2 separate regions of the Homo sapiens genome follow, and region 1 is linked to region 2. A link means that fine-mapping ties the variant in region 2 to the expression of a gene that starts in the linked region. Tissue or cell type: whole blood. Region 2 holds a variant in brackets; the other region holds the start of a gene. All regions are shown on one strand. Distances are from middle to middle.

Evidence for each region. PIP is the estimated chance that this variant, and not a neighbour inherited with it, causes the effect.
Region 1: SP100 starts here. The variant in region 2 is fine-mapped to the expression of SP100 in whole blood (INTERVAL, PIP above 0.99).

What each region holds. Positions count from the first base shown.
Region 1 is chr2:230,414,420-230,417,245 of GRCh38, reverse strand. It overlaps SP100 (SP100 nuclear antigen), which reads right to left and starts at 1,045. Exons shown (of 29, transcript NM_001080391.2): 1 at 918-1,045. The coding sequence starts at 949. RefSeq lists an enhancer at 879-1,398.
Region 2 is chr2:230,468,935-230,471,434 of GRCh38, reverse strand. SP100 (SP100 nuclear antigen) reads right to left here. Exons shown (of 29, transcript NM_001080391.2): 14 at 2,339-2,392; 15 at 1,337-1,420. The region is part of intron 3 of LOC101928816 (a long non-coding RNA gene); the gene reads left to right. Among named protein-coding and RNA genes, the nearest start is that of SP100, 54 kb to the right of the region's middle. The variant G/T (reference allele first, on the strand shown) is at 1,056.

The DNA.
Region 1 (2,826 bases), 54 kb after region 2:
TATTATAAATCAAGAACATAAATTACGTATTTACAAAAAATGCATTAGATATATAAATGCATAGAAAAATATAAGAAAAGCTGTGCCCAAGACTCTTCACAGGACTGGGAAGAGAAGCTACAAGAATGGCTGAGTGGCAAAGATGACTTTTTCCTTAATATACTTCTCCACTGTTTTAAATTTTATGAACAATAATGTACAGTGTATTTCTTTTGTATTAAAAAATTTAAAAGATTAAGTAATGTTATTTCTCAACTCACTACTAGAGAAAAGTTAGGATTTCCTTCTCTTTTCTGGTCAGAGGTATCCCCCATCTTGGGACAGGAAATTGAGGTAAAAATGAAAATATTTAGCCGTTTGTCACCCTGGGCCTTTTTCTTCCCTTTCCTTCTTTTGATCAAGGTTGATGGAATAAGAACTCAGACCCTGAGCCAGTCATGGGAACAGCCGGCAGAGGCCCCTTGCCAGGACAGGTGAGACCACAGCGTCTGATGTTTAAAAGTAAGCCAGGTGTTTACCCTGGAGTGTTTATTTTCTAAAGCACCTTTTTTGACATGACATATTTGAAGGTAGAGGAAGGCTGAGGGGTGAAAGGGTTCACAGATCATGAGGAAATAGTTAATCCCAGCCACCAACAACTGCTATGTTTAGAGTGTCCCGGTCAGCTGAGCAGTAAATCCAAAACAAGAAAGTCACGTGTGTTATGGCAAGTTGAACTCACACCAACAGCTGTCCTGCTCCTGTTTAAAAAATCTGATTTCCTCATTACTTGTCTTTCATTTCATTATATAACATCGCATACCTATGTTCTTGCAAAGAAGGATTAAAGTGAAGCCTTAGGCACAAACTGAACTAAAGGCATGAAAGCTGCAATATAGCCAGAGATAAAGGTTAAAGGAAGGGAGATAAAGACTCACCTGGTGCTCAGGTCGCCGCCCCCACCTGCCATCTTCCCACCCTAGGCCCTGCGTGGGCCTCAGAGCCTGGCCTCTGAGCCCCTCAGTCGGCCCAGCCTGCGTGCAGTGTGGCTGCCCAGGCCCCAAGCAGGAAGTCGGCCGACAGACTGACTCAGAAAGGGCTCCGCCCAAATGGGGAAAAGAGAAGTGAAAGTATTTAACCTCCTTCTGGGCTACGGACACTGTGTTTCTCCTCCTTTTTCACTCCAAGGGATTCTCAGCTTTTCTGAAATGTGGCAGAGGGTTGGAGGAGAGGCCTGACAAGCAGCAAGACCTGCAGGACCAGGGAAGGAGGGCCCAGGGGACGAGCAGGGCCAGCTCCCGGGTGTCCACTTGTTTGTGCAATACACAGCCAAAAAAAATGTCCTTGAAACAAAATTGTCCTTAGCTGCTCTGCCCTCTAAGAGGGGGCATAGTTTACATGGGAGTTGGGGGGGAAACTCCATGTTTGCCCCTTCCCCTTGCTGACATGGCTTGGGGTGGGAGTTGGAGGGTTGGAGGGAAAGCCAGAAACCTCAAATCTTCTCTCAGGCCCATGGGAGAGCATGGACTGGACTAAGGTAGGTCCTGACATTGGGACCCAGGGCTGGAGAGAACCAAAATGCTCAGCATTATAACCTGGGGAGAGTGTGCTTAGCCTTCCTGGAAATCAGCCAGAAGTAAGAGAGAACTCTCCACACCCCTGGGACCAGAGGCTGGAGCCAGCATGGTAAGAAAGGCAAACATTTTAAGGGGCAAGGGTTTAAGGAATCTTGACTATGGGGCCGCCTTGGAACAGCCAGGGGTGAAGAGACACCTAAGCTTCGGAGAAGTCACTGGAATCTTGAGAGAACAAAAGCTTCTCATTGGAGGAGGATGGAGGTTGGAACCCAGATGATCTAGACATGGAAGGGCAGGGTGGCTCCCGCGGGAGGTTCTATCTCTGCCCAGATTTTCCATTTAGATTCTGATTCATCATTCCTCAGAGAACAAGAAGCGACCGAGAAGACTCGCTTTACATCAGTATAAAGTCATAGGTAAAGAAACAGAAGCAAAGGGCGCATGAGAATGGGGCCACAGGACACAACCAGGGACCAGAACTCCAGGCCGGACCATGGGGCAGAGACAGGGAGGCAGCTGGGAGCCTGGGGGCGCTGGAATCCAGGGCCCAAGGTGAGCAGAGGGTGGAAGCTGGTGAGGATTCAGGGGCCAGAGGGGATGGCACTTCAGAACGGTGTTTTCCAAATGGCATTCTACTGAATCCAACTTCTTCCAGCTGTGAATAAGGATGCTTGTCCAGGTACATTTGAAAATGTGGGGGAAGGGGCTTTCTACCCTCACTCTACTTCTGCTCTTCTTTTCCCCATGAGTGAATGACCAGGCACCAGGACATTGGTGAGGACAGCTTTGCCGGTGGGCGAAGGTCACTGTTTCTATCAGGCACTGCACACCTGTAGGTCTCTCTCTCTTTCTCTCACCTGTAGGTCTCTCTCTCTTTCTCTCATTCTTCCTACCCCCCATGACTCCCCGACTTTATGGGGCTGAAGGGCTGGTAAGCTGAGCCTCTTTTGGGCACAGCTGTCCTTTGATCCCAGTCTCCATGAGGCACATTGGTCCCAAGAAGTCCTGGCATGGACCACACAGTATGCTTTGGTGTGGTTCACGTTCTCCCCTCTCGCTGCCTCTGGGCAGCAGGCAGGCTCAGGCCATTGAGTGGCACTGACATAAACGTGCCAGCTTTTCCCTGGATGTGCTTAGGGGCTACTAAGAGCAGCACCTGGAATTCCAGACCAATGAGCCACAGGCTGGCAGGGAATTCCTTACGGGTTGAACTTCACGGGCAGACATGCCCATGCTGGGGCACCTCCTGGCAGCAGGGAAGGAGATGTTC
Region 2 (2,500 bases):
CAAGGAAATAATAGACTATAGACAGTGACGAGGAAACCAGGGAACCTGTCTCAATGTGGTCATGCTGAACTATTTTCAGAGCTTAAACGGACTGACAAAAAAATACACCTATATCAATGAGTACACCTCATAGCCCTACTCTATCTGGCCACACTTCGTTCTCCTTCTCACTTCTCATTTTTCTGCCCATTGCCCTGCTGCTATACATTTTTGTCTCTGTCTCTTTGATTCGGTGAGCTCATCTCCCTTTGATTTATCTTGTCTCCTGTGTTGCTTTTTCTGTTTCCATCAATGATGTTCTGTTCTCCTTTATTTCTATGTTTATCTATTTTGCTTCTGTCTTTCTAGGTATTTTGTATATTATATAGCTGGTTCCATTCCTATTATCTCTGTCTGTTTGCGATTTTTATTTTTCCCTCCCCCTAAAGATTATATGTATTAACCAATATACATATATACACACACATATGTGTGTGTTTATGTATGTATACATGTTATATGTAACAAATATATGCATGTGTACACACACACACACACACAGTGGTTGTTAAATAAGCTTTCTTGCATCAGGCACTGGTATAGTCTCCTGTGAATATTCTGAGTTCCTTGCGCATCTTCTTTGGACTTTGACTTAAATGACACAGCTCTTATCCTCCTGTCTGTTACATACAACAGTCACCCACCGTGAGACACCTGGGTTGCTAGTTTCTATTGTTTCTTTAGTTTTTTGGCCCTAATACTTCTGTACATCTATTTCCTCACCCCAAAATGGGTATAGTTAGCCTGCCTATGTCTTAAAAATTTTGTGATGACAAAATAAGATATTATTTGCCAAAAGACATTGAAATAACACAATATAATCCAATTACATGATGAAGGACATCTACCAAAAACTATACTAACGTTTGAGAGTGTTTGATCTGAAGTTTTTATTTCTGTCTATAATTACATAGTAGGAACAGTTGTCTTTTGAGGCTTTACAATTACAAATGACAATGATGTCAACCCATTTATCACTATAAAAATCTAAGATCTTAGTGTTAATAGGAATGAGA[G/T]CAGGTTTAAAAAAAAGAATACCACAAATTTGCTATTTATTTCTTCTACAACAACAAAATATAATTACATACATTTAGTCAGTGAAACTCTTTCTGTTAAACATGAGTTTATCATAATTTCCTGCCTCTTTCCATTTTCTAAAATGCAAAAAGGAGTTCCCAGATGAACTGGATACAAGGTAGTGAAGGTGCTCAGAATAAAAAGCGTCTGGAAACAGCAGCTTTTAATTCACATTCCTGACATTCTGCAGGCCAAGTCTTGGCATCCTAATCTTCTTTACCTGACCCTCTTCTTAGGGATGAGCTGCAGGTTTCCTGAAGCTCTTCTCCATTACTCAGGTCTGAAAAGTCACTACTGCTGAAACCTGCAGAAAAAAATAAAATTCCTTAACAGTCTTAGTCTGAGTCTTAGGAATCAGCAGGGAATTCTTTAAAAGCAAAACTGAACAAGAGAAGCTTGTGGAGGAGGGGGAGAAATAGTCCCACCACTAGGCCACCCTTTGGCTTTGATCATCTGACCTGTTGGTCAAGATTGCTCCAGGAGCCCTCTCTGAGGCTGGGGCTGGGGATGACATTGTTTCTTCTTCTTTTTTTTTTTTAACTTTGGGAAAAATATGTATTTATTATAAATCATCCATTTCATTGGGTGGTTTCAAATTAAGAAAGCAATATATGCTTGTCATAAGAAGACCAATGAATGCAAATGTATATAACCCCAAAGCTCTCTTTTCCTACCCTATTCTGTCTCTGGTCTCCCAGCTAGTGAAGTCAACAGATCAGTGTGGATCCTTCCATCGTTTTCTCCTATCTCATTCATGCATAATCAAATAAAAGGAACATACATAATGTTCAATCTTTTCTGAATACAATCCTAGGACAACGTTGTTTCTTACGCTTCTTAGGCTTTCATTATTAGTTTGCACATACTTCTGCTTCCATCTCAGTTTCTTATCCAAGGGAACCATGGAAGCAACATCTTAAAGATGTCAGAGCCCCCATCAGCTGGGCCCTGAATGACTGTGTGGGCACCCCCTCTACTCAGGAACTACTTTATCCTATTTATGTGAGTGAAAAATAAACTTATGTTGCACTTGTGCCTTTGAACATTTTGAGGCTTATGTTTTATACCAGCCCAACTCATCTAATTGAAAATGTAAAATGCAAATCATCTAAAATCCCAACAAATTAATTTTTTATTTTAAAGGATATAACATAAAAAGTGAATGTAGCTTTTGCAGCAAATAAAGACATTTGTTACATCAAGAGTTTTTAATTGCTCTTACGTCTCTTCCTGCTGGGTATTCTCCAAGTAGATGTACTTCTAGAAGTCATAGGAGCTAGAAAGTAAAGGAAAACCAAATCAATAATATCTAACTAAAAGATCTATAAATCTTATGACTGCTTACACTGTTGACAGAATTTGGACTATAAATATTCTATGAGGA